7 linked regions of the Homo sapiens genome follow. The protein of the gene in region 1 purifies or fractionates together with the protein of each later gene. This does not show direct contact. Each region holds a gene or a part of one and is shown in the gene's direction. Other genes may lie near its edges.

Region 1 (4,016 bases):
AGTAGCTCTGGGCAGGAAGAGTCCCTTTGGAGCATAAACTATGGCCTCCTTGATCTCAATGATGATCCATGTTTCTTGATTTAAGGCCGGGCAAACCTAGACCCCTCTTGTCTGAATTTGGCCTGGCTTCTCCCATTGTAGGAAGCCCGAAGGGAGGGAAGGACCCAGGCCTGGGAGTCAAGAGTCTTGGGTCCCAGCCTCTAGCCCACTGTGTGACTGTAGGGAAATTACATTCCTTCTCTGGCCCTCAGTGCTTTTAGCTCCTAACTCTGTTCATTCTTGTGACTTTGTAGACAATACAGTGGGTAAGAGTTGGGATTTACCTGGTTTGAATCCTGTCTCCAGCACTGACTGGTTGGAAATGGATTTGGCTATAAGTAATGGTAAATCCAGATAAAGTAGCTTAAAGAAATAGGAAGTTCATTTCTCTTTTCTGTAGCACTGTCTGGAGGAAGATGGTATGGGGACTGGTGTGAGGACTCCTCAAGCTCCCCCTTACTCTTAGTCCGAGATGGCCGCTAGAACTTCAGCCATCACCTCCAGGCAGCAGGACAGGAAGGAAAGAGAGCTTCCCTTTTAAAGGACACTTCATGAAGTCCCACACAATGCTTGGACTTACAACTTACTGCCATAGATTGGTCACACAAATACAACCTGGTACAAAAGATGTCTGGGATGTGTTTTAGTGGATCGCTGTGTGCCAGACTAAAAACTGGGGTTCCAAGCTAGGTGCAGTGGCCTACATTGTGATCCTAGCACTTTGGGAGGCTGAGGCAGGAGGATTACTTGAGGCCAGGAGTTTGAGACCAGCCTGGGCAACATAGCAAGACTCCCATTTCTACAAAAAATAAAAAATTAGCCAGGCATTGTGGTGCATGCCTGTAGACCCAGCTCCTCAGGTGGCTGAGGTGGAAGGATCACTGGAGCCCAGGAGTTCGAGGCTGCAGTGAGCTATGATCATGCCACTACATTCCAGCCTGGTCCACAGAGCGAGACTTTGTCTCAAAAAAAAAAAAAAAAAAAAAAAATTGCAGTTCTATGACTAAGATCAAAAGGGAGATGGATTATGGGGACACCTAGCAGTCTCCACCACAGTCTTACCACTTTGGGCAAGCACCTCCCTGGTAACGGGCTGGCTGGGGAGGAAGGGAATAGCGGACCGAGGCTACCCTGAGCACGCTGTTGCCCCCACAGGCAGCTGGAGGCCATTGTGCGCATCGCGGAAGCCCTCAGCAAGATGAAGCTGCAGCCCTTCGCCACAGAGGCAGATGTGGAGGAGGCCCTGCGGCTCTTCCAAGTGTCCACGTTGGATGCTGCCTTGTCCGGTACCCTGTCAGGTGAGCAGATGCAGGGGCCATGGTCTCAATTGATCTGGGTTCCCTGGCTCGGAGCTCTGTGGGCAGGGCTCTGGCCTGCTGGGGGCCTGCAGTGTGTGTCTTGCTTCTCTGAGTTTGCTGAGCTTCTCTGAGTTTCTTTTTGCCATAAGACCCCTCTCCTCCTTTCTCCCCACCGCTGTTTCCTCCAAGATGGGAAGAAGCAGCTTCTCTCCAGACCCTTGAACACAATCCTCTTGACCCAGGTCATTGATGATAACCCTTCTCACTGGCTAGGAACAACAGTTGATGCTCTGCTTCCTAGAGCTTGTCAGCATTTTCAGTGCTTCCAGAGTTATTTCTTGCATTTTGCCTTACAGCTGCCCCCTGGAAGCCAGGTGAGCAGTCAGTCCTGCCCATGTTAGAAATGAGACAGCTGACACTCGAAGGGGCCTTTCCCTGGTGCCCAAGATCACAGTCGCTTGGCTGGAATGCAAGTCTCCTGGCCCCTAGGCCAGCGTTTTCCACACCATAAGCCATACTGTCTGGTTTCGGTCAGCCTTTCAACAGACTGTCCCAGGCACCGATCATGAGCCAGGCTACCTACGCTGGGGAAAATCTGTTCCTTCACCCAGCAGATACTTCATTAGTGTTACTGTTTGCCAGGCACTGTTCTAGGTGCTGGGAGTATAAGAGCAATCAATCACAGGGTCCCGGCCCTCCTGGGTTCTCATTCTCGTTCTAGTTGGGGAGAGATAGACAGTAGAGAAACAAATGCAGGTAGTGTAGGTAGTGAAAAAGGCAGTGAGGGAGATGATGGCAGGGCCAGGTGTGTTGGAAAAGGAGGACGTGCTCTTTCCCATGGAGTGAGTGGGCATGGCCTCTGCAAGGAGGTGATGCCAAGCAGGGAGCTGCATGAAGGGGACAGTGTGGCTCCTTGGGGGAAGAGCTGCTCAGGTGGAGGCAGCGCTAAGTGTCAGTTTCCCCAGGAGGGAGCAGGTTTGGTGCATTTGAATGGGGAGGCACTTGGGTGAGGAATGGGGTGGGTGGGGCCTGTTCCTCCTGTCCCCCTTGGTGAAGACTCAGCCTCTACCCTGGAGACACTTGCTGTCACATGAGACATTGCAGGTGGAGGCCTCTGGGATGCTGCAGGCACAGAGGGCAGGGGTGATATGGAGTGGTGATAATTTGAGTTGGGTCTTATGGGCTATGTAGGAGTTTGCCTCACAGACTCCCCTCTCAATGACTTCTTGACCATGAGCCCACCATCTCCTTAGCTGAAACACCAAGGCCTCTGTGGCAGTAATTGGAAGTCACGAGCCTCCTGGTTGCCGAGGGCTCCTCAGGGCACCTCGTAGATGTGTCCAGGGCAGGCTGGCTTCCCTCCTGGGTCACTGATGGGCCCCTTCCAACTCTCTCTCTAATCTATCTGCTCCAGCAACAAAAGGAGTCCTGCTGTGGCCTCCAAGGGCCCGCAGGACTTGGTCCCTAGTGACACTCTGGCCATGTCTCTGCTGCGCTGGGCCCCGGGCTGCTTTTTGAATGAGACAGGTGTGTTCCTGCCTCTGTGACTTTGTGCTTGGCCTGGAGTGTCCCCACATGTGCCATATCCTGTCTCCTCAATCAGGCCTGCACCACCCTGGCACACTCGGTGCCCTTTTCTGACTTACTCTTCGGGGCCTGGCTCAGGCTGTTCTTCCTTGGGCTAGAGGCTGTCTCTGTCCAAGAACTCCCATTGTCCCAGCTCCCCGGCTGCCTCACTTCTCCATGCCCACAGGGGTGGAGGGCTTCACCAGCCAGGAGGACCAGGAGATGCTGAGCCGCATCGAGAAGCAGCTCAAGCGCCGCTTTGCCATTGGCTCCCAGGTGTCTGAGCACAGCATCATCAAGGACTTCACCAAGCAGGTGAGCCTGCCTTGGAGTGGGGGTGTGAGCCGGCACGGGGTGCAGGTCTTCTGCTGGTTCCCACCCACTCAGCACTGGCATCTTACTCAGCAGACAGGCCCTGAACGGGGGTAGGATGGACAACTGTCCCTTTCTCAGACCTTTTCTAGCCATCATTCCTTCCCTAGGGACATCTTCATCAGGAGCAGGGATGGGGGTATTTTTTCTGTCCCACGAAGGGGAGGGGAGAGCAGAGGTGGTTGGATTCTGGTGAAACCCCATACAAGTTCCCCGCAGCCCTTCCCGTCTGTGCCTTTCCCCGTTGGCGGGCGTTTCATGGAGTGGGAAGGGGCAGAGCCATGAGAGTGAGCTTTCTGGCTCACTGAGGAGGGTACTGTTGGCCCCATAGAGAGAAGATGGGATTTCCCAGATGCTCTGGAAAACCTGTCACCTTTAAAATCTCAGGATTAATCCTAGTTTCTGGTCTCCGCTCCTTGTACATCATCTCATTTTGATTCAGGGCAGTTTAATGGGTGGTATCGTGTCTATTCTATAGGTGCGCAGACTGAGGCTTAGAGAAAGGTTTAGAGCTTCGGTTCTAGAGTCAGATGGGACTTAAGTCCCAGCTCTACCTCTTAATTGCTGTGACCTTGAGCAAGTGGCTTAGCCTCCGTGTGCCTCAGTGTCTGGTACACAGTGGGCACTCAGGAAGTGTGGGCCCTTTAGGTCAAAGGAGCCTGAGTACAAAGTTCCCCGTGAGCCTGGGGATGTCTGGGCTCTGTCGGAGTCCCCTCGGGCAGCACGTGCCGTTAGCCAGCC
Region 2 (4,016 bases), on another chromosome or scaffold:
AAGTATGTTGACTGCTTATGGTCTGCTCTATTTGAGAGTAGGACATAGACCTGGAGGCTTCTGCTGCTGCTGCAGGCCAAGGAATGGAAAGGTTTGTTTGGTTCTCATTCTCATTTTTTTTCTTTGCTTCTCTTTTAAACAACACTCTCTGACAAGTGATTGGGCCCACAGAGACCAGAGCCTGTACACAGAGAATGGACAGAGACTATATTGTCTTCCTTACTTTATCTTGTGAGCTGCTTATCTCTTCCACAGGGAGGACAATGTGTTAAATTGAGATAATTCTGGCATGCTGTCATCTTTGGGGGAATCATAATTGCTGTTGTCATTTTAGGCAGCTTCAAGGGAGTTGAGTTCATTCAGCTTCAGTTACCTGAACTGAATTCAGTTGCCTGAATTGACGCTTTTGTGAAATGGAATCTTTCCAAGTCAAAGCTTGGATTGAAATTTCACTGACTGGTTTTTATGAGATCACTTAGGGTCTCAAATACTTTATGTAGAGGTGCATTGATCATATTTTACACTTATGTGTGACTTATGGGCAACTTTTAGCACCCTTATCCCTCTGGAGTTTTGGAATGCTATTTGTGAGGTTTATAACTTCATAAATATTTATTGAACATCTACTACCTGCCAGGTAGTAGTCTAGATGGTAGAGTATACAGTAAGGAACAAGCTATATAAGGTCCTTTCTCTGTTGGAGCTTACTTTCTTTGGGATATTAGACATTGAATTAGGCTATTTCAGATAAGATAGTACTTGTGAAAGATCTATAACAAATTCTTTTGGATGTGTCTAGTGTCCTTCCCTACTGCATGTCCAGATCTTTCTCATCTTCATTTGAAGGCTGGCTCAAATGGCAGCTTCTCCATCATATCCTTATCTGATCCTTCCAGCTGATATATTACTCCCCTCTTTGAAATCTCATGCCTCTCTATCAGCAACTTTCTTATGTCACCTTAACATTTTTTTCTATTTGTTTCATAGTTGTTAGTGCATATGTTAAGTCTCCCCATTAGACTATAAATTACTGAGGGCAGGCCGGGCACAGTGGCTCACGCCTGTAATCCTAGCACTTTGGGAGGCCAAGGCGGGTGGATTACTTGAGGTCAAGAGTTCAAGACCATCCTAGCCAACACAGTGAAACCCTGTCGCTACTAAAACTACAAAAAATTAGCTGGGCATGGTGGCGCACACCTATAACCCTAGCTACTTGGGAGGCAGGAGAATCCCTTGAACCCAACAGGGTGGAGCTTGCAGTGAGCTGAGATCCTGCCACTGCACTCCAGCCTGGGTGACATTGTAAGACTTTGTCTGAAAAAAAAAAAATTATTGAGGGAAGAGTAAACATCCTATTCATCTTGGTTTGGGATATTTCACATGCAGGCAGCAGGATGTTGTAGGAAAAAAACACACTGAACTTAGAACCAGAAGGATCAGATAAGGATATGATGGAGTACTGGCTTCTCTATTCACTGGCCGTGTGACTAGACAAGTCATTTAGCTTCACTGAAACTAAGTTTTCTATCTCTAAGCGTGTAGTAATCATCCTTCTATTCCTGAATAGTTGTCGGGAGGCTCAAACTGAGATAATGTATGTGACTATCCTTTGCAAATTCTAACTTTCTACACACAGTATCATAGTAAATATTGAGTATTTGAATGAGTAAGCATTTACTTTAGTGAACACCTTTTCCTGAGCAGTTCTCTTGCTTAATGAGGTCTTTTGATTTTGTAAATATGCTACTTTTTTATCTGATATTTTTGTATTGTTCCATTTTGCAGATGATATCTAATTTTATTAAATTATTCTGTTCCTGAGAATTGGCATCCTCTTCATCCACCTGGGGATGACCAGGAATTTTCTGTTTTTTTCTCTGTAGGTGCTATTTAATATTTAAATAACAAATGACATTTGATCTGTTTCAGCAGGTGGTCCATTATGGCTGACATGCAAAATCTGGTAGAAAGATTGGAGAGGGCAGTGGGCCGCCTGGAGGCAGTATCTCATACCTCTGACATGCACCGTGGGTATGCAGACAGTCCTTCAAAAGGTAAGCAGTCCACAGCCCAGCAGAATGCTTTCTTTGAGCGTCTTGGCCTGAAAATTTTCTATTATTCTCTCCTTTGGCGCTAACTTCCCAAAACTTAATCTAGAAAGTTTACCTTTTGTAATTTGTATTGCTGTGAACAGATAAGAGAGGAAATGACTTGTACAGGGAGGCCTGTGGTTAAGTTATTTTAACACAAGAACTTCCTGCTTGTGCAATATTTCCTGCTCTTTCTTTAGCAGAATGACTCCAATGTAAGTCAAATGACAAGTGATAATAAAATTCCTCTCTCCAAACAATTGGCAAATTGGACATTTTGCACATGCACCAGTTGGAACATAGAATGTTAGCACTAAAAAAAACCTTGGAGGATCATTTTGTTTATTTTCATTTTATAGATAAAGAAAATTAAGCTCAGAGAGGAAAAGGAATTTAGTCAGGGTCACACAACCAGTTAGTGGTGATACTGGACCTGGAACCCAGGTTTCCTTACTCCTGTTCTGTATCCTGTTGACTGTATTACCTTGCCTCCCCACTTTCATGTAGAAGCACGTTTTAAAGAAGCCTCCTTCTGATGCATGGCTGATTCTTTGTGGTGTGTTTGTCTTTAGCAGGAGCAGCTCCATATGTGCAGGCATTTGACTCGCTGCTTGCTGGTCCTGTGGCAGAGTACTTGAAGATCAGTAAAGAGATTGGGGGAGACGTGCAGAAACATGTAAGGATGTTTTGCCTTTTTCCCCTTCTTTTAAGGACTAACAGCTTTCTTCAGTCAGCCAAGGTCCTCATCCTTGGTTTAAGAGCTCCTTGAGAAGTTCCTCTTGGTTTGGGGCATTACACATGTTCTTTCTCTTTTGCCTGTACTGAGGAGTTCAGTCTAGCCACAGAAACGATTCCTCATTTTTTTCTAGGCCCCTTGCTTTTATCACGTATTTATACAGAAAGCTTGCTTGGTACATAAAATATGGTTCTGTTCATCTTTGTAGTGAAGAATATGCACCAGTTTGATCCCAACATATTACATAATCAAACCTACAGTGGCTTATTTAAAGGAGTCATTATCATGACTTAGCATTTATAAAACTATGCTTGATAGTTATTAGTTATGCTAATGTGGGTTATTTTCACACTTAACCCACAGCAAGAATATGAAGTAGGCAATGACAGGTGCCTTTCCTCCCACCTTCCTTTATGCCTCCTACGTCATCACCACCACCCCCCACCCCCACCCCACACTCACATATACATTCTACCTCTATTTTTGGGACCCAAAAACCTTCCTGCTAGCTCACCGAATTATAAACAGTAACCATGCTTGGGAACTTCTTCACCTAAACCTTTCTCGAAGACTGGTTGCTTGGCTTTTGGAAAATCTATTTTGAGCCTCTCAAATACCATCTGTTGCCAATGGTTTTAGCTCTAGAGAGTGGGACTGGGACTTTAATAAGGGTGTGGAGGCTTGCATTTTTACTTAATACAGTTCTGTAACATTTGAAAAAACTTTAAAACATTTATCATTTGTATTTTAAAAATGCAAATCCAGAAAAAATAGATTGCTTTCTTTGAATTTTTGTATTTTAATAGTGCTTACAGTCTCATGTTTCTTAAATTCTTTTGACTGCGAATGACCCTTAGAAAGAAAGAACATATTCGTAACTGAGATAAAAGTTTCACAAGATGATATTTATACTACTTCTGCTGTACTTTTTTTTTTTTTAACTTTTTATTTGGAAATAACTTGAAGTTGGTGCACTGCACTCATACTTTTGTTCCATTAAGCTCACTAAATTGATTTAATTATTTATTAATGGGTCATGGTATCTGGCATTTGAGAGATAGCTTTAATCTAAAGGAGTAAATACCTTGAGAATTTTCAGCAGAAATTTAGGCCTTTGCCTTTACTCCTGTCTCCAATTTTTGAGAAAAGAAAGGTGTTTTTTTGGTTGCTGTTTGTTTTATTTTGCTGAT
Region 3 (4,016 bases), on another chromosome or scaffold:
GTCTGCCTTCTCCGAGCACCCCGCCCCCCGCCCCCCACCATTGCCCCTGTTTCCTGCCAGTGGCCATTCCCCTCTGTTGCTGGGGAAGGGGTGTGGGGAAGGGGTGCGTGTGGAAAGGGGGCTGGTTGGGGGGGCTCCTTCTGAAATAGCTACACTTTCGAATGCCTGGGAAGCAGCTGTGCACATCTGGCGGCCCGAGCCTGTCGTCTGGGGTCTGCCGTCTGAGGTGGCGGGACTGCTTCTGTTTAATCAGCCTGAAACTCTGAGTCACTAGGGATTGCGGGAGGAGAGGAAGGAGGCAGCTGGGAGCTGGCCTGGCCCCTGCCTCTGCCTGTTCCGGGTGTGCTCACGGCTGCCTGCCATAAAAGGCTGGGAGACCTGCAGGACCATTCGTCATCCTCCTGGAGGGCCAGGGCGGCACTGGGGCAGTCACAGGGAAGACTTATCCTTGGTGATCTTTGTTCCTGGGGTGGGGCCAGGTTGCCCCAGCCACCCCACCCTCACCTGGTCCCCATCACAGTGAGACAACCCGGGTGCTGCCTGGCTTCATGGGTGGACCAGCCTGAGTTCTGCTTACTCACTGAGGCTGCGCCGGGATGTGCAAAGACTACAGACCTTGGTGCCCTCACACCTGGTCCCAGTCCCAGCTCTGCCATTTCTAACCTCAGTTTCTGCATCTGTACGCGGGGGACCAGTGCATGGGCTTTGAAACCCGCCCATGAGCATGACGGTGTCTGTGAAAGGTCTGGCTCGTAGTAGGCCCTCATGGGATCACGGCGTCCATTCTCCCCGCAGCCTCTGACCTCTGCAGGTCAGTTCCCAGGACAGTGGAGCCAAACACAGACCAAGCGGGAAGTTCACCTCCCTGGTACAAAGTTCGGCCCTGCTACTCATTAACCTTCAGGTGCGCCTAAACCTTTGCAGAGAGAGAGAGGGGTTCCTGACGGCAGTGACCACCCACAGGCCTGCCCCACCCCAGATCCCTAGCCTGGGCTCGAGGAGACCAGGAGGTGAGGAAGCACTTCTGGAGGAGAGGCAGTGCTGATGATAATGGCCGTGGCCTCTGAGCACCTGCTATGCACCAGGTCCTCGCAACCACCTCTGAGGGAGGTGGCGTGACCCCGCTTTACAGATGAGGACACTGAGGTTCTGTGGGGAGAGGAACTGCCCCAGTAGTGAGTAGCTGAGATTTGAATTGCTCTGTGGGACTCAAAGAGGCGTCTAGGGACTGGGAGGGCTGGGAGAGAGGGGGCCTTAGGGTCTGGACCTCAGGGCCATGTGTGATCCTGCCCAACCTGTAGGAAAGCCAGATCCTGGAGTCTCTGAGGGAGCCTGGGGCGCTCCAGAGAAACCTGTCAGACCGCTTCCCTGCCCCGCCCAGTTTCCTGCCCAATGGCTTGGGTGCCTCCTCCCTGCAGCCTTTCCCAGGGAGCCCCAGTAGTTGAGGGTGGGCCCAGGGGACCTCAGAAGCTGCTAGAAGCCCTGAGTGCCTTCTCTTGCCCCTGGGAGAGTTGGGTCAGGGCAGCAAGGTGCGTGAGCAGGGGCTTCTGGCGGCAGCTGGCCCTTGACTGTCCTGCCCCCTGGGGCTCATCCCCCTGGGAGGTCAGAGATGCAAGCCCAGGACATACACACAGCCGCACCCCTGGGGCTCACTGCTCCCAGGGTATCTCGTCGTGGGCAGCCCCTCCCTGGGCCTGGTGCCCTTCTGGGCAGTCCCCCCATCCCCAGCCTGCATCCTCATTGAAATCCCTGGGCCATGGTGATGATGTGGGAAGACAGGCGGGGCTTGGTGACGGGCTGAAGCTGGGGGCTGGGCCAGGTGACTTCCTGCTTCCTGACTTCCTCCTTTGTGCCCCCAGTAGCCACGATGGAGGTGATGAACCTGATGGAGCAGCCTATCAAGGTGACTGAGTGGCAGCAGACATACACCTACGACTCGGGTATCCACTCGGGCGCCAACACCTGCGTGCCCTCCGTCAGCAGCAAGGGCATCATGGAGGAGGATGAGGCCTGCGGGCGCCAGTACACGCTCAAGAAAACCACCACTTACACCCAGGGGGTGCCCCCCAGCCAAGGTCAGGACCCCTGGGGACTATTGCATGGGGCAGAAAACCTGCCTGGGTCCTGGAGAGAGGTCAGAGTGAAAGGAGGCAGATTGTAGGGGGTCTCTGGTCTGAGGGAGGAGGCACAGCTCATGCTAACTAGGGGCCCACCCAGTCTGAAGGAGGAGGTGCAGCTACTTCAGGGTGCTGCATCTGGGAGGGTCACAGAATCCTCTTCTGTGAACCATCAGTAGGGAGGGAAGGCATAGTCCCTGCCCTTAGGGTGCCTCCAGTCTGAAGGAAAAGCCATAGTCCTTGCCTTCTGTGAACATAAGAATCTGATGAAGACATTGGGTACGGTGGCTCATGCCTGTAATCCCAGCACTTTGGGAGGCTGAGGTGGGCAGATCACCTGAGGTCAGGAGTTTGAGACCAGCCTGGCCAACATGATGAAACCCCGTCTCTACTAAAAATACAAAAATTAGCCGGGTGTGGTGGCGCATGCACCTGTAGTCCCAGCTACTTGGGAGGCTGAGGCAGGAGAATTGCTTGAACCCAGGAGGCAGAGGTTGGAGTGAGCTGAGATTGCGCCACTGCACTCCAGCCTGGGCGACAGAGTGAGACTCCGTCTCAAAAAATAGTAAAAAAAAGAGTCTGATGAGGATGTATCACTATGGCTCTCAGGGAGCCCATGGATGGCAGGGAGGACGCAGCCCTTTGGCTGCAGGAGCCTCACGTTTGTGGGAGAGCCAGGGCCGTAGCCCCCAGGAACCCCCAGGGATTCCCCTTTGGGTAGAGGGGTGTAGGTGTCAAGCCTGAGGGCCCCTCGTTGGGGTTGGAGGGAGACCAGGCCTCTGCGGCTGACCTGCAGATAGGCCAAGGCTGTGGGATGAGTGACTGACTCAGCTCTGGGGCTTAGTCCGGGATGGGGATGCCCCGCCAGCCCAAGCCTCCCCTGCCCCTCTGGGAGAGAGGAATAGCCAGGCCCTAGAACTGTTGGCCACAGGTGCCTCCAGGGCCCTGAACATGCCAGGGGGTGGGCTGTGGGTGCTGGGAGTAGTGTGAGTAGACTGTGGCTGGTGGGGCTCTATGGAGCTCAGCCCTCGCATGCCAGTCTCCTCCCTGACAGCTGGTAGGGGTAGCAGGGGGCCTTTTGGCTGGCAGGGCCAGGCACTGTGTTGGTAGCAAAAAGTACAGCATCCAGGTGGGAAAGCCATGCAGCTGTCTCCTCCTTCTCGACTAATTAGAGGGTGGAACCTCTGCGTCCCTCTCCCTGGGGGCATCAGGACAGTTGCCAGGGTGTGGCTGCTTGGGCACCTACCTGTGGGACTCCCAGACCCACCCAGGGGATGGAAGCTAGAGAGGAACCTGACGTCTCAGCTGAGGACCCAGCTCCTGCTCTCTGAACCCACAGCCCTGACTTTCCCTCTGATCTGCTGTGAGATGTGATGTTGGTGGTTCTCTGGGCCTCTGTTTGCCTGCCTGTATAGTGGGAGGATTGCTACCGTTGGGGATGATGAGGGTGTAATTAGACTCCTGAGATTTCAGGGTTGAAAACAGACCTGATGGGTAAGGGAGGAGAATAGAGTAGGGGTTTGGGCCCCTGAGTCAGGCTGCCTTATAACCCCTCTGTGCCCAGTTTTCCCATCTGTAAAGTGGAGCCAGTGATAGTACTTACCTTGCAGGGTCGTTGTCAGGTTATGTGAGAAAATATAAGCAGGGCATTGAATTCACTGCCAGGCACATAATAAGTGTGCAAAAAAAAAAAAAAATTCCCTTGATGGACAGAACATGTGGGGCCTATTTTACAGAGATTACTGAGGTGATGGTGACTTCCCCAAGGTTCCTGGTGAGAGGTAGAATGGCCAGTCATGTGCTGGGGGTTTGGGCAGGGCAAGAGGTAGCCCAGAGGACCCAGGTGGGGCTGTCTGTGGCCTGCCCTGCTCCCCAGTGTCTGCCCAGCCCACTGCCTGC
Region 4 (4,016 bases), on another chromosome or scaffold:
CCGCGGGCCATGTCATCAGCCCCTGCTGAGCGGTTGCTGAGTAGGCAGGAGTCTGTCCCTCACGTGTTGACCTGCAGGCTTCTGGACATGAGGGCTGAGCCCCTGAACATGGGCGCTGAGCTGGGCAGTCACCCATTGGGCCTGGCGGGTCCTGTGTGCGAGTTCAGAAGCCGAGCTTTAGGGAGGGCTGGGGTGTGGCTGAGTGCAGCCACGGGGCCACTGCAAAAGAGTCAAGAGGCAGCTGACTGCCAGCTAGGCTGGGCACCTATTTCCTGTTTGTATGTTGGCTCCTATGCAAGCTCCCTGAGGAAATGAGTGCTGAGGTGTCAGGCCCTGCGCTACAGGCAAGGACCAGCCGCTGGGAGGGTGGGACCGCCCACCTGGGGCTATGGTCAGGGAAGCCTTCCCAGGAAAGCTGAGGTCTGAAGAGGGAATGAAGAGAGAGTGAGCAGTGCTCTGGGGCAAACTGGTTCAATGCCCTGTGCTGGGGGACGGGCCCCTGGGACCTGGAAAGCAGCGTGGCTCCTGTGCAGTCTGAGATGGGCCTGGGTACAGTGAGGAGAGGTGGCCGAGTGTTTGCAGGCAGCACCTGGGTGAGGTGCTGGCTTTGAGGGGACCGCCTGCTTCAGGCAGGGAAGGTGCTGGTGGAGGGCAGCGGGAGGATGGCTTTGGGTTTTGGGTGGTGATGGGATGTTCAATGTCAGAGAACCCTGGGATCGGTGGCTGAGGGAGGGTCGTGTGTTTCCTGTGGACGTTTGAACTGGTGGGACTGGGCCATCTCGCAGAGCCCTCTCAGAAGAGGAAGGAGGGGCTGCTGGGGTAACCCTGTGGCCTGAGAGGTGGGATGCCCGGAGGGGCCGGACAAGCAGATCCCAGGGGAAAGCAGGGGCGTGGGCAACAATGGGAGGAGGGCAGGTGGCTAGGGGGCCCAGCCTCAGGAGGCTGAGGCCCACAGTGAGCGGAACCTTTACGTTCTCCAGAAAATTGGGGAGGAGTTCCTGACTGACCTGAGCCAGCTGAAGAAGCTGCTGCCGCTGGTCAGTGACGAGGTGTTCATCAGGGACGTGGCCAAGGTCAAACAGGTAGGCATGGCCCTGGCCCCAGCCCCGACCCCAGCCCTCCCACAACCAGGCAGGTAGGCCCTGGCCCTAGCCCTCCTACAGGCCCAGCACAGGTCCTGGGGTACCCACTGGGGCTTTAGTGGGGACTCAGAACAGGACTGAGGGTGAGGCTGTTAGGGTTGCCTGAGGTCTCTCCACCCCACTCAGCCTTTCAGATGAGGGCCCCGAGGAGGACAGGTCACATGGCAGATAGGTGAGTGCAGACCCCAGGCCAGCCCTGCCCGTGCCTCGACCCTCTGCCACAGGTCAGTTCTGTATGGAAGCCTCTAGAAGCCGATTCCAGCGTGGTACCCTCTTTGCCCCTGGAGAGCTGTGCAGGTGCACGAGCTGTCTGCACCGGCAGCAGCCTCTCGGCTAGACCAGGGCCAGTCACGGCAGCCTTCAAACCTCAGCGGGCTGGAGGCCCATCTACACAGCCTGTCGAGCTTGGCCTCCTCATAGAGGCCAGAACTAGTTCTCCTTGTAGTCCTTTCAGCCGTCCCGCTCCCGCGCTGCTCCGCCGCCTGCACGCCTGGCTCTGCAGTGTCTTCTGCTTGGCTCCAGGCGTGCTCCTGGGCCGGCTCCTCACTTATCCCCTACTCTTGGTGTGGACCCACCTTCAGCATCCCCCTCTCCCCTTTTCCCATGAGAAGACCCCTGGTGCAATCTCTGCCCCTCAGCTCCAGCCTGTATACCCCTGCCCCCTCCCTGCGGCACTCTTCACAGGGCACTTGAAGCAGGAAGCCGCAGGGTCAGTGGATGGAGTCCTGGTGAAGTCTCCAGCCATCTTTCCCTTTCACCCTCCCAGGAGAACAAGCTCAAGTTCTCGGCCTTCCTGGAGAAGGAGTACAAGGTGAAGATCAACCCCTCCTCCATGTTCGATGTGCATGTGAAGAGGATCCACGAGTACAAGCGGCAGCTGCTCAACTGCCTGCACGTCGTCACCCTGTACAATCGTGAGTGCCGGCATCACCTGCATGACCGCGCTGTGGGGCCCAAGGCTTGCCCTTGCCCGCCAGCTGTGCACAGACCCTGGGCCTCTGTCATGGTGGGGGCTGTGTGTGTATAGGCGTGTGCATGTGTGATGTGGCACGTTTATTTTAAGCAAAAGCCATGTTTTTCTGTGTGCCCCATGCCAGGCCTCACGTGAGCAGGTGAACAGTTAGACACCCGAAAGGCCCAGGCTGGAGTGCAGTGGTGCCATCACGGCTCACTGCAGTCTTGACCTCCAAGGGCCCAGGAAATCCTCCCACCTCAGTCCCCCAAGTAGCTGGGACTACAGGCGCACGCCACTATGCCCTTGTATTTTTTGTAGAGACAGGGTTTCACTATGTTGCCAAGGCTGGTCTCGAACTCCTGGCCTCAAGTGATCTACCCACTTCTGCCTCCCAAAAGGCTGGGGTTATAGGCATGAGCCACTGTACCGGGCCTTCAGTTTTTATTTTAAATTTAGTTATTATCTTTGTGAGACTAATCTTATTTAGAAAGATTATGCTTATTAGAGGCATTTAAAGTATACTTACAAAAATTAAGATAGTATGTGTTAAATTTACACATGCATCTTATATGTCTAAGGACATTTAATTATGAGACAAACATGAAACAGAGACCCCCAAAGGTCAATGTGAATATTTGCTAGGTTTAATAGATAATGAAACCTTAAGGAAAAACTAGGTTTCTAAAATTTTGTAATTTAATAAAGTAGGTATTTTAAAAACCAAAGGAACCACACATCCTCCTTTCCGATACAAAGCTCCTCCCGGGAATAGATCTCCTATTCCCAATGAGTAAGCCTCGATGGGGTGGAGGATCTGGGTGCGTTTGAGACACACATGGTAGGACAGAGGCTAGAGGCCACCCCCGCTGAGGACCCCTCTGCCGTGTGGGCACCACGGGAGGTGCTTCCCGGGGCTGTGGCTTCCCGGCTCCGAGATGGTGCACGGGAACTTTGCATCATCTTTCCTTGCCCCATTTTCCTCCTGCAGTTGTGATGCTCTGTGTTCCCCTGGTGGTGACCCGGAGTCCTCCGCTTGCACAACGCTTGGTCCTATTGATGAGCGGCAGTGAGACTCGCGGGTCACCCCCTCCCTTCCTCCCGCTCCACCACCCCCACAGTCAGTTGCTGCATCGTCTTTTAGTGTTGGCCTTCAGGCTTTCCTCCTCCCGCTCCGCCACCCCCAGTCGTCAGTTGTTGCATCGTCTTCTATTGTTGGCCTTCAGGCTTTCCAGATGCTCCACTTCTGCTTGGTTGGTTCATTCGTTTTGAACGACACGCTGTGATTTCCAGCCGTTCACAGGAGGCAGCCAACAGGCTGGTGCTCGCTCCCACTGGTCTTCCCCCTTGCTCCATGTCTGTGTGTGCACGCATAAATGTATATGTGTGCATGCCTGTAAACATGTGTGCTTGTGTCTGTGCATGTACCTGTGGTGGACCTGCGTCTCCTTCCCCCACTGTCAGAGCTCACAGCATCAATACTTTGCCCTTCCTCCTGTCCCCAGCTGTATCAGTTTGAGTCTGGTGGTGAGTATGTTCACTGCTTCTCACGGTCCTTCTGCAAAGTGCTGCCCAGCCCTGCTGGCCACTTTGTGTCTAGTTCATGACTGGCTCATGGGAACAACCTTCCCGAGTTCTTGCTTGTTCAAAACGGCCTGGACCCTTCACCATGAAGGTCGGTTTGGCTGAAGATGCCAGTCTTAACTCCACTTCCTTCCCCCAGTGCTTTTTAGGGCCCTACCGGGCACTGTCTGGAGGGTGGGTGTGTGTGCAGAAGTCTGGCGATGTCTGAGTTCTCGATCTCATCAGTGACTCACTGTCATTGCCGTGTCTTGGTGTTGGCCGTTACAGGGCATTTTCGCCAATACTCCGGGTGCTTGTTGAACGTGTTGCTGGACTTCAGGGAAGTTGTCTGTTTGAAA
Region 5 (3,500 bases), on another chromosome or scaffold:
CAAAGGTAGAGGCATTCTAGGGAATCTAAATATGAACAAAGCATGGACCTTGCTCTGAAGGATCTTTTAAACCTAACAGGCGCATAGTCTTATGAATCTCTTACAGACAACAAATCGAGAGAAGAGCTAAGGAAGTACGTAAAAGGGCAAAATGGCCTACAAATAGAGGGTCAAGGTTGGTATGACAGAAGTAGGATTTGAGAGAGGTGGATGTTTTGGAAACAAGAAAGGGAGTGACCAGAAGAATGACTATGGGAAAGCACTGGGTTTGTTGTAGAGGTGGAATTGGCCTAGTTTGGCTGGAGCATGAGCTGCATGAAAGAAAGTAAAATAAAATAATGGCAGCTAGAACTCAAAGATAGATTAGGGCCAGATTGTGAAGGGCCTTGAATGCCACATGGAAGAACATTCTGTAGGTATTTTGGGCAGGAGATGAAAAATGACCCTACAGAAGGCCCAATAATGATGATAAATGGTTAAATATGTTTAAGTTACCAATCTATGCTAATCTTTTAAGAAATGTTATCTCACTGTAACTATGAATAGTGTACTGTGTCCATTTTGCAGATGAAAAATGAAGGCTCAGCAAGATTAAGGAAACTGGAAATGTCAAGAGCTGCAGCTAGGACCCAGACTTGGGTCTGTTGGATTCTAAATCCTGTTCTGTGTCTCACTGTGATTGATATATTGTCACTTCTTTTATTAAGAACTGATAAGGTCTTAATCCTCTGTCAAGAATATGGCTGTAGAAAAAGGATGTTTTCAAAGTTGTGAAGGGACTGCTTCTCACCATGTTATGTTAAGGAATGTAATCACTACCCAACTTGACTTGTACTGTTCTCTGTTTTGAGACCAGAGCTAGATGGGAAATTAAAGAATTGGATGATGTTTTATTTACATGCCTGATGACATCAATACATGCTCATAGCAAATGCCTTTGTTTTCATTTTCAGTATCTAAGCTTATTGGCCCTAAGTAAATCTTAGGTTAGGTAGAGCTCAGTTCCCAGGGACATTCAAGATTCATAAAGAAGTGATATTTTTCCCAGCTAAAATATTTTTCTTCTTACCAGGTTCTCTACTTAAAAGACAATGACTACTGATGAAGGTGCCAAGAACAATGAAGAAAGCCCCACAGCCACTGTTGCTGAGCAGGGAGAGGATATTACCTCCAAAAAAGACAGGGGAGTATTAAAGGTGAGGCCACAAAGCTGAGTGACATACAAGGAAACCTGCTGTCTGGAAAGATTATAGCATCTCTTTCTGAGGGGGGCTGGGGTGGATAATGTTTATTGATGGTTACTAAGTGCCAAACACTAGAGCTAGATTCTCATTTTGTCTTCATAACTTCAAGGTTTTTTTTAAGAGTTGAGTCTCGTTATGTTGCCCAGGCTGGTCTTGAGCTCCTGGGTTCAAGTGATCTTCCCATCTCAGCTTCCTGAGTAGCTGGGATTTTCTTTTTAAATTAATTAATTAAATTTTTGAGAGAGGGCATCTCATTATGTTGCTCAGGCAAGTCTTGAAATCCTGGCCTCAAGCAATCCTCCCACCTCAGCCTTCTGAGTAGCTGGGATTATAGGCACGAGCCACTGTGCCCAGCTAGAGATTTTAATTTTTAATCCCAGATTATAGATGTTGAAATTGAGACTGGGCTAGGTAAATTAACTTGCCTAATATCATATATCTTAGTAATGCAGATTTACCTGGGGTTCAGGTCCAAGTTATATCTCACTCTAAAGGGCTATATTTCCCTATTCTCAGAGTATACAAATAGGTTACTATTTTAATGTATCCTTTTAGTACACTAAAGCTAGCTAATGACAATTTTGAAGACTTTTTAAGGAAAGAAAAGCTAACTTGAAAAATTCAAAGGGGTTTTATTTTATTTTATTTTATTTTATTTTATTTTATTTTATTTTATTTTGAGACAGAGTCTCCCTCTGTTGCCTGGGCTAGAGTGCAGTGGTATGATCTCAGCTCACTGCAACCTCCGCCTCCTGGATTCAAGCAATTCTGCCTCAGCCTCCCGAGTAGCTGGGATTACAGGCGCCTGCTACCATGCCTCGCTAATTTTTGTAGAGACAGGGTTTCACCATGTTGGCCAGGCTGGTCTTGAACTCCTGACCTCAGGTGATCCGCCTGCCTTGGCCTCGCAAAGTGTTGGGATTACAGGCATGAGCCACCGTGCCCGGCCCAAAGGGGTTTATTTTTATATATAAATATTGTTCCTGTGTACAGTGAAGATATCTTTTGCGATTTCCTCTTAGAATATATCTTACTTTTGAATTAGCTTTCCTACTTATTAAAGCACTATACAGTCATTCACCATATAATGACATTTCAGTCAGTGACAGACTGCACCTTCAGCAGTGGTCCCATAAGATTATAATGGGGCCGAAAAGTTCCTATGGCCTAGTGGTGCCATAGCTGTTGTAGCATGGGTAGTACAGTGTATTATGTGTTTGTGGTGATGTGGGTGTAAACAAACCTACTGCACTGCAGTCACAGTTATGTATAGTACATAATACTTGATAATAAATGTTTATATTACTGGTTTATGTGTTTACTATACTTTCTATCATTATTTTAGAGTGTGCTTCTTATTTTTTAAAAAGTTAACTGTAAAACACCCTTGGCTGAGTGCAGTGGCTCATGCCTGTAATCCCAGCACCCTGGGAGGCCAAAGCAAGAGGATCACTTGAGGCCAGGAGTTCAAGACCAGCCTGGGCAACATAGTAAGACCCCTATCTGTAGAAAAAAAATTAAAAAAATTAGCCAGGCATAGTGGCATGTACCTGTAGTTTCTACTACTCAGGAGACTGAGGCAGGAGGATCATGTAAGCCTGGGAGTTCCAAGCTGCAGTGAACTATGATCATACCACTGCATTCTAGCCTGGGTGAGAGTGAGATCCTGTCTCAAAAACAAATGAACAAACAAAAAACAGCCTTGGGCAGGTCCCTCAGGAGGTATTCAAGAAGAAGGCATTGTTATTATAGGAGACAGCAGCTCCATGCATGTTACTGTCCTGAAGACCTTCCAGTGGGACAAGATGTGTTGGTGGAAGACAGTGATACTGATGATCCTGACCCTCTGTAGGCCTAGGTTTATGTATGTGTTTGTGTCTTAGTTTTAAACAAAAAAAAGTTTAAAAAGTAAAAGAATAAAAAATTTAAAAAACAGAAAAATGCTTATAGAATAAGGATATAAAGAAAGAAAATATTTTTGTACAGCTGTACAGTGTTTGTGTTCTAAGTGTCATTACAAGAGTCAAAGCTAAAAAAAAAGTTTACACAGTAAAAATGTTATAGTAAGCTAAGATTGATTTATTATTAAAGAAAGAAGAAAAATTTTAAAATAAATGTAGTCTAGGTGTCCAGTGTTTATAAAGTCTACGGTAGTGTATGGTAATATCCTAGGCCTTCATGTTCACTCACTGCTCACTCGCTGACTCATCCAGAACAACTTCCAGTCCTGCAAGTTCCATTCATGGTAAGTGTTCT
Region 6 (4,016 bases), on another chromosome or scaffold:
AATACAGTGTTTTCAGTATCTCCCTCAGCTTTTAAGCCAAGGCCGGCTGGGCACGGTGGCTCACGCCTGTAATCCCAGCACTTTGGGAGGCTGAGGTGGGTGGATCACCTGAGGTCAGGAGTTCAAGACCAGCCTGGCCAACATAGTGAAACTCAACCTCTACTAAAAATACAAAAATTAGCCAGGCATGGTGGCATGTGCCTGTAATCCCAACTACTCAGGAGGCTGAGGCAAGAGAATCACTTGAACCTGGGAGGTGGAGGTTGCAGTGAGCCGAGATTGCGCCATTGCACTCCATCCTGGGGGACAAGAGTGAGACTTTGTCTCAAAAAAAAGAAGTCAAGGCCACATTTTGTGGGCAGCTCCCAGCCAGTGACTGAGCACAGTATGGGTACTAGGGCCCAGCAATTTGGTCCACTCTGAGACTCCTCTGATGAATAATCTTTGCTCCATGGCTCCCCGTTGGGTTGGTCAAGATTTTGTCCAATCTGCATTGTGGTCTAGGCTATCCTGTCCTAATCCTACTTTCTCTTCCTTTTTATCTTTCACAGAAATTACTCTCCCCAATAAATTGTGTTCCTAACTCTGTCTTTTTTTTTTTTTTTTTTTTTGAGATGGAGTCTCGCTCTGTTGCCCAGGCTGGAGTGCAGTGGCATGATCTCGGCTCACTGCAAGCTCCACCTCCCGAGTTCATGCCATTCTCCTTCCTCAGCCTCCTGAGTAGCTGGGACTACAGGTGCCTGCCACCACGCCTGGCTAATTTTATGTATTTTTTAGTTGAGACAGGGTTTCACCATGTTAGCCAGGATAGTCTCTATCTCCTGACCTTGTGATCCGCCCACCTCGGCCTCCCAAAGTGCTGGGATTACAGGCATGAGCCACCGCGCCCGGCCCTCATATGCCCTGGAGCTCACTTATAATAAGGTAAAGAGAAAAAGGGCCTGGGAAGGCTTCCATCAGAAAGGTCACATGACCACTCCAGGTGGTGTTGCCTTACTGAAGTTAAGCAAAAGAGAGTTTCAGAAAGGCAGTCATGGTGTCAACTGTTATTGATTTATATCTGCCAGGATTGCTGCTTCATTAAAGTAGTATGAATGGAAATCTGGTCACAAGGTAAAGATGGGTAATGGGGAAGTAGAAGTATGGAGTATGGAACATGCATTTGAAAGGCTGGTAGCCAGGTGCAGTGACTCACGCCTGTAATCCCAGCACTTTGGGAGGCCGAGGCGGGTCGATCATCTGAGGTCAGGAGTTGGAGACCAGCCTGGCCAAAATGGTGAAACCTCTCTCTACTAAAAACACAAAAATTAGCCGGGCATGGTGGTGCACGCCTGTGATCCCAGCTTCTCATGAGGCTGAGACAGGAGAATCGCTTGAACCCAGGACATGGAGGTTGCAGTGAGCTGAGATCACGCCACTGCACTCCAGCCTGGGCAACAGAGCAAGACTCCGTCAAAAAAAAAAAAAAAAAAAGTCTGGTAGGAAAAAGAAGGGGAGAAACAGGAGGGTATTGGGGAAGACAGAGAAGCATACTTATTTGAAGGAGCACAGGGAAAAAGGAAGAGACTAAAAACAGCAAAAAATAGAGGCTGTTTATTGCAATACATAGCGCGGAGGTAAATGAAGGGACCCTCACACACATAGCCCCCTTGGAGGATAGAGAATGAGGTCTTCTGCTAACCAAGGGAGAATAAATGAATACCATTCTGATGTGTTAACCTTATTCCAGCCATGGTCAAAAGGTAATGAGGAATAAATGCTTAAATAACTGATTAGAAGGATGCCCAAGATATACTAAATGTCAGACGCAAGTCTTTTATGTTAAAAAAACAAAAACAAAAACCTATGCAGGCATGAATGTACTTGTACAAATACATATATTTAAATACATAGAGCACTGTTTTCCAAACTTTGTGCATATTTGAGCCACCTGGGGATCTTTAAAAAGTACTGATACCTGCCCTCCTTTGATTTAATTGGTATCAGGTGCATCAGGATTTAAAAAAAAAACTCCCCCAGGTGATTCTAATGTGCAGCAAAGTTTGGGAACCACTGGCATAGCAAAAGCTCTGTTAACAGTGGTCACCTGTTCTCAGGAGAATTAATAAAGGTGGACTTTTGAGTTTTTGTGAGCATGTGTTACTTTAGTGGGTTTTACTCAAACAGTACAAAAAAGCGGGGAAAAACAAGGTAATTGGAGAACAGTAGTAGATTTCCTAGTGAAAAATCAAGGCCAAATAAATCATCAGAAGTCCAACTTTCTGTGTATTTCATTTCTGTGATCTTGCAACTTTTACATTGAAAAATCCGCCTGCGGTCAGGCACAGTGGCTCATGCCTGTAATCCCAGCACTTTGGGAGGCCAAGGTGGGCAGATCACTTGAGCTTAGGAGTTTGAGACCAGCCTGGGCAACATGGCAAAACCCTGTCTCTACTAAAAATACAAGAATTAGCCAAGCGTGGTGGTGTGTGCCTATAATCCCAGCTACTCGGGTGGCCGAGGCAGGACAATCGCTTGAACCCGGGAGGTAGAGGTTGCAGTGAGCCAAGATTGTGCCAGTGCACTCCAGCCTGGGCCACAGAGTGAGAATCCATCTCAAAAGCAAAAAGAAAAATCCACCTGAGCTTTTACTTTTCCCCTCAGATCTGTGTGCCAATGTCAGTGGAATTTGAGGAACTCCTGAAGGCTCGAGAGAATCCAAGTGAAGAGGCACAAAGTAAGTAGGGGTGAAAATTTCATTCAGCACCAGCAAAAATACAGGTTAATGACAGCTCAGATTTGCAGCCATGGCCTCAGAGATATTTATAGCCAGGATTTCTTGCTGGTTTTGTCTTTGCTGGTTTCTGGGCTAGAGTGACATCCTAAGTTGGTCTTGGGCAAAATGTTCATTTTGTTCTCTCCTACCTCAAATTTACTGGCTTGGAAAGCCAAGGATTGTTCACTTTAGTTCACAATACTAAAATGAGTCAGTCCTTGTTACCTTGTAAGAGAAAACTCACTTTTGATCTCACTTAACTTATTGGAGGTTATATTGTGAGCAAAGGGAAGACATTTGGGTGAAGTGCTGCCTCAGGAAACTAGGAACACACAGTCCATTTGAAAAGGTAAGTCCAAGAGAGTGGTCTGTAGAAACTGAATCATTGATGTATCTGATTCCCTCAGACTTGGTGGAGTTCACAGATGAAGAGGGATATGGTCGTTATCTCGATCTCCATGACTGTTACCTCAAGTACATTAACCTGAAGGCATCTGAGGTAAGGCCTGGGAAAGGGCAGAGAGGTTCTGATTCTCGAAGTGAGTCAGGACAGTAGGCTGGAACTAGCAGACATGAAGCCATTGTAAAGTGTCTTCCTTGTGTTTTAAAACTCTTATGTAAATATTAAAGAGGTGATATGCTCTCTTGGAATGAAATACTATTCAAAATGAAAGTTTTCTACAGTGAAAACAAGAAGCATATTTATTTATTAATACTTTTTTTTTTATTTTGAGATGAGGTCTTACCATGTTGCCCAGTCTGGAGTGCAGTGGTATGATCTTTGCTCACTGCAACCTCGACTTCTGGGCTCAAGTGATCTCCTGCCTTAGCCTTCTGAGTATTTGAGGCTACAGGTGCATACCACCACCACACTTGGCTAATTTTTGTCTTTTTTTGTAAAGATGGGGTCTTGCAGTGTTGCCCAGGCTGGTCACAAACTCCTGACCTCAAATGATCCTCCTGTCTCGGCCTCCCACAGTGTTGGGATACAGGCATGAGCCATTGTACCCAGTCCATTATCAATACAGCAAGCATATTTTACCTTTGCCAAAATAAATCTTTTTTTTTTTTTTTTTTTTTTGAGACAGGGTCTCACTTTGTCACCCAGGCTGGAGTGCAGTGGCGCGATCTTGGCTCACTGTAGCCTAGACCTCTTGGACTCAAGTGATGGATCCCGCCTCAGCCCCACCAAGTACTTGGGACTACAGGCGTGTGCCACCATGCCCAGCTAATTTTTTGTATTTTGTGTAGAGATGGGGTT
Region 7 (4,016 bases), on another chromosome or scaffold:
ATGTGAATGTACCTCTTTCAATTGTAAATATTATGAAATCTAAACACAGATCAAGTATTTCTGTTGAAAAAGTGCAGTGCTCATCTAGGGCAAAGTAGACAAACCCACTCTGTTGCTTCTTGGCCACTCTGGTAAGAATTTTGAGCCCAGCCACTGACCACAGCAGATGCAGCCAGTTTTCTTGTTTTCTGTGTCTGTATGACCACTGATAACAGGGCATGGTGTGGCCAGGGCCCTCCTCTGTGTCCCTGGGACAGGCCAAGCAGCCAGGGTCACCTAGGTACATACAGCACCCCTCACGTTTGCTCTCATACTGCAGTTCCAGTTGTCTTTTAAGTTTTTATGGTAATGACATGAGTCTCACAGACCCCAACACTGAGGGCTGGATCTTAAATGCTGGGTGCTGCTTCCTTTGACCAAGGGATGTCTGTGCCATCCCCACAGAGGTGCCCAAGGAGGCCTCTTTTGGGGTTGTTTCTTGATGGTCGTTTCTCCTTCCCAAGCCATCAGAGAACTTTAGGGAATGGGGCTGGAGGACCCCCTCATGCAGCAAGCTTGGCCCCAGTGAGGAAGAAGTGGGGACAGGGCATGGTGCCCTGTCATGGGGTGAGGACTCCCCAGGAGATTCTGTCATGCATTAGGCTGAGCCCTAAGTCTCATAGGTCCCAGCTTACCCCTAAGATAGCAGAATGTTGGATGTTGCTCTTGGAAGCAAGAGAGATCACTGGAGAGGTAGTTGGTTGATAAGAGCTAAGCAGAGCCTTCCATGGCAAGCATGGGGGCAGGCTGGGTTGGCCCAGGACAGGTCCTGGTGTGGGGGGGTGTCATGGGTCTTGGAAAATAGCCTTTCTTCATGAGAGTGGGCAAGGTGTGCACATGGAACAGGCACTGTCCTGAGTATCCAGGACCTGCTGAAGAAGGATAAAGGCATCTTCCAGAATGTCAGTCCCCTCAGGTATGTGCCTCCTAGCTCTTCCCTGGGATATGTTAGCACAGGCAGCAAATGCATTCCCAGGCACAGAGGGTCCTGCCTTGGGTTCTGGCACCCCCTCTTGTCTGTCACCTCCCTTTGTGTAGTTGGTCCTGAGCTTATCCTGGACACCCATCCCTCAGTGGGCTCTGCTCTGTCCCCAGCCCTGGACACCTGTCTCAGGTCTCTGACTCAGGTCTCTGTCCTGCTTGTCCCCAGGTGAACCTGAGCAAGGTGGGCGAGTATTGGTGGAACGCCATCCTGGAGGGAGAAGAGCCCATCGACATTGACAAGATCAACAAGGAGCGCTCCATGGCCACCGTGGATGAGGAGGAACAGGCGGTGTTGGACAGGCTTACCTTTGACTACCACCAGAAGCTGCAGGGCAAGCCACAGAGCCATGAGCTGGTACGAGCATGGCAGTCCTGGAGAGTCCACCCTTTAGGCCCTTGTGCTGGTGACAAGGCCGATAGTGGCAGAGGGGTTGGTGATGACGGTGGGGAAGAAGGTTGTGTGGACCAGCTTCCTGCCATGTCCTAGCCTAGCAAGGAACCTGTCTTACCTGCTCTTGTCCCCAATCACTGCCTCACAGGTGCACTCTGGTCTTTCAGCTGTGTTCTCATACCTGGGCTGAGAGCCCAGTTAACAGGACCTCGAAGGGTGTCATGAGATCTGCCCTTCCTGCACCAGAGCCTGGTAACATCAAGTGTGTTGATGGCTTTTGTTTGTGCCTCATCTGCACATATCTTCCCATGAAGAGTCGCTTGGTGGGACCTTTGGTAGAGGAGGGGAGGGAGCCAGATTGCAGAGCCAGTTTCTGGATGTTGGAGGCCAGCATGTGAAGACTCTGTGATGTCAGCAGTGGGTTAGGGAGGAGGAAGAGAAAGGTTCCTGTCTGACCAGTGTAGTGCCCAGTGTAGAGTTTGCTCATGGCCAAAGAGAATGATTAATTAGATGTATACATTCTTTCTTCCTATTTTAATAACTCCAAGAGTAGCTATTTAGGGAAAAAAGGGTTGCTTTCCTCAGATTATTTTTAACTTCCCGTGTCCCATATACCCAGCACGTGGGTTTGGGCCGCAGTACAGCAGGGCACGCGGACGCAGTGCAGCCTTGAGTCAGTGGGGAGGGGTCATCTGCTGGGCACAGTCTCCTTATTTTTGTTCTGTAAACACGGACCGCCTCCTCCCCCTGAAGATCGCTGATCGATATTTTCTTCTCATTTTGTCTCTTGGAGGAACCTTACCTTGTGGTGTATCTGGATTGTCTTAGTCTTACCTTCCGGTACAGCACGTATTAATACATCGTAGGTGGTTCTGCAAGCCCTGTTGCTGTGTCTCGTCCGTTCTTGCCTATTTTCACAGACAGGTGCATCCTGCTCTTATGAGGTGAAGGAGCCTGCGGAGAGGAGTGTCAACATGTTCTCCTCACCTGGCCCTGCCACACCAGGGGCATGTCCTGAGCACTTAGTACACACAGTTAAGGTGGGGTTGACTGGCTGCACAGTACCCCTGAAAATACAGTTTGTTTGTTTTTTGTTTTTGTTTTTGTTTTTTTCCCCCCACAATAGAGAGATTGAATTTCTGAGGTTGTGACTCAGTAGCTTAGGCAGCAGGGATGGGGTTTGACCTCTGATTTGATTTCACACCTGTCTGTCCTCACAGCCCTGTCCACCCTGGCCCTTGTCTCTATGGAAGAGAATGTTCCTCTAGGTTTGGCCCCCTTTTCCACCCGGGGCATGGCAAGCTTAAAGGACATCTTTGCTTGGCCTACGTCCATGCAGAGTTTGAAGCCTCAGGTAGTATTGCAGCACCTGCTCAGCTGAGCTCAGCTCAGGTGCTTAGACAGCCAGACCTGCCTGGTTATGGCTCATTCCAGTTATGCTGCATTTGCCTGTGGCCACTAGATGAAAGGCCAGCCTTTGAACCTTTGCCCTGTGGGTAGGGCTTCTCATGGTAGTGTTTGGGGATGGTGTATGTGAGGGTCTGCCCACTCTGTGCCCATATTCAGCATTGGGTCCACAAAAGGACTGAGATGTATTCATGAGTTGACCTTCGGGAGAAAGAGTCTGTTTTGACTGGAGAACATGAACCCAGATGCCTTTTGTTCCAGAAAGATAAGAAGGCAGTCTTACCATGTACCCCTTAGAAGTGTCTTTTTGTGCCACAGGATGGAGGGACTAAGGTCAGGTGGTTTCTCACATCTTCCCCAGACACTGACACTGAGCCTTTGTTACAGAGAGATGATAAAAATTATTGTAGTTTGAATGGTATTTGTGCGTTTGTCAAAGCCTTGATGAAGTTTTTGTAGACTTTATTTTATTTTATTTTTTAAATTTTTTGAGACAGAGCCTCGCTCTGTCACCCAGGCTGGAATGCAGTGGTGTGATCTCAGCTCACTGATACCTCCGCCTCCCAGGTTCAAGCGGTTCTCCTGCCTCAGCCTCCTGAGTAGCTGGGACTACAGGCGCACACCACCACGCCCAGCTAATTTTGTATTTTTAGTAGAGACGGGATTTCACCATGTTGGCCAGGCTGGTCTCGAACTCCTGACCTCAGATGATCCACCTGCTTTAGCCTCCCAAAGTGCTGGTATTACAGACGTGAGCCACCACGCCTGGCCAGTTTTCTGTAGACTTTAGCTGTTGAGGCATGAGAGAAGCTAGGATGCTCTGGCTGTTTTTATCTGTGAGCCCTCATGTTTCCTGTGATTGTATCTCTTACAGAACTTTATATTCAAAAACAAAATAGCAGGAATACCTGCTCATCATTGGAGTTGCCAGTAGTGCCAAAGACACGCATGGAGGTGTCAGGGGCTCCACCAGCCTTTTCTTCTCTACATCCTTGCCCCTCCCCTTCCCTCCTTTCTTTCTGTTTCCCTTTTCTTTCCCTTACATCCTCCCCTCTCCTTGACCTTCCTCTCAGTCTCTTTCCCCCATCCTTTATGTTCTGTGCCAACACCTTGTAACATTGCATAGTCTCACCCCTCTATTGGGGCACGTCGGTGAGGAAGACAGACACAGATCTGCCTTTGTGGTGCTAGGATT

What was found.
Region 2: the proteins of MCM5 (region 1) and CAP1 fractionate together in Homo sapiens (co-fractionation; one large-scale study listed by BioGRID). This does not show direct contact.
Region 3: the proteins of MCM5 (region 1) and JUP purify together in Homo sapiens (affinity purification with mass spectrometry; 2 studies listed by BioGRID, with this or other methods). This does not show direct contact.
Region 4: the proteins of MCM5 (region 1) and PYGB purify together in Homo sapiens (affinity purification with mass spectrometry, with the first as the bait; one large-scale study listed by BioGRID). This does not show direct contact.
Region 5: the proteins of MCM5 (region 1) and FKBP5 purify together in Homo sapiens (affinity purification with a luminescence readout; 2 studies listed by BioGRID and IntAct, with this or other methods). This does not show direct contact.
Region 6: the proteins of MCM5 (region 1) and SF3A3 purify together in Homo sapiens (affinity purification with mass spectrometry; 2 studies listed by BioGRID, with this or other methods). This does not show direct contact.
Region 7: the proteins of MCM5 (region 1) and NUDCD3 purify together in Homo sapiens (affinity purification with a luminescence readout; one large-scale study listed by IntAct). This does not show direct contact.

Annotation. Positions count from the first base shown.
Region 1 is NC_000022.11:35,420,124-35,424,139, forward strand, and holds part of MCM5 (DNA replication licensing factor MCM5), read left to right. Parts: intron 1-1,194; coding exon 1,195-1,337; intron 1,338-3,090; coding exon 3,091-3,218; intron 3,219-4,016. UniProt on the Homo sapiens protein: Acts as a component of the MCM2-7 complex (MCM complex) which is the replicative helicase essential for 'once per cell cycle' DNA replication initiation and elongation in eukaryotic cells.
Region 2 is NC_000001.11:40,057,405-40,061,420, forward strand, and holds part of CAP1 (adenylyl cyclase-associated protein 1), read left to right. Parts: intron 1-1,929; exon of another isoform or gene 1,930-1,932; 5' UTR 1,933-1,942; coding exon 1,943-2,054; intron 2,055-2,662; coding exon 2,663-2,766; intron 2,767-4,016. UniProt on the Homo sapiens protein: Directly regulates filament dynamics and has been implicated in a number of complex developmental and morphological processes, including mRNA localization and the establishment of cell polarity.
Region 3 is NC_000017.11:41,769,706-41,773,721, reverse strand, and holds part of JUP (junction plakoglobin), read left to right. Parts: intron 1-795; exon of another isoform or gene 796-1,132; coding exon of another isoform or gene 1,133-1,175; intron 1,176-1,465; exon of another isoform or gene 1,466-1,529; intron 1,530-1,859; coding exon of another isoform or gene 1,860-1,867; coding exon 1,868-2,075; intron 2,076-4,016. UniProt on the Homo sapiens protein: Common junctional plaque protein. The membrane-associated plaques are architectural elements in an important strategic position to influence the arrangement and function of both the cytoskeleton and the cells within the tissue.
Region 4 is NC_000020.11:25,282,196-25,286,211, forward strand, and holds part of PYGB (glycogen phosphorylase, brain form), read left to right. Parts: intron 1-980; coding exon 981-1,082; intron 1,083-1,908; coding exon 1,909-2,056; intron 2,057-4,016. UniProt on the Homo sapiens protein: Glycogen phosphorylase that regulates glycogen mobilization. Phosphorylase is an important allosteric enzyme in carbohydrate metabolism. Enzymes from different sources differ in their regulatory mechanisms and in their natural substrates.
Region 5 is NC_000006.12:35,640,416-35,643,915, reverse strand, and holds part of FKBP5 (peptidyl-prolyl cis-trans isomerase FKBP5), read left to right. Parts: intron 1-1,072; 5' UTR 1,073-1,091; coding exon 1,092-1,196; intron 1,197-3,500. UniProt on the Homo sapiens protein: Immunophilin protein with PPIase and co-chaperone activities. Component of unligated steroid receptors heterocomplexes through interaction with heat-shock protein 90 (HSP90).
Region 6 is NC_000001.11:37,983,407-37,987,422, reverse strand, and holds part of SF3A3 (splicing factor 3A subunit 3), read left to right. Parts: intron 1-2,643; coding exon 2,644-2,716; intron 2,717-3,162; coding exon 3,163-3,254; intron 3,255-4,016. UniProt on the Homo sapiens protein: Component of the 17S U2 SnRNP complex of the spliceosome, a large ribonucleoprotein complex that removes introns from transcribed pre-mRNAs.
Region 7 is NC_000007.14:44,389,659-44,393,674, reverse strand, and holds part of NUDCD3 (nudC domain-containing protein 3), read left to right. Parts: intron 1-1,189; coding exon 1,190-1,378; intron 1,379-4,016.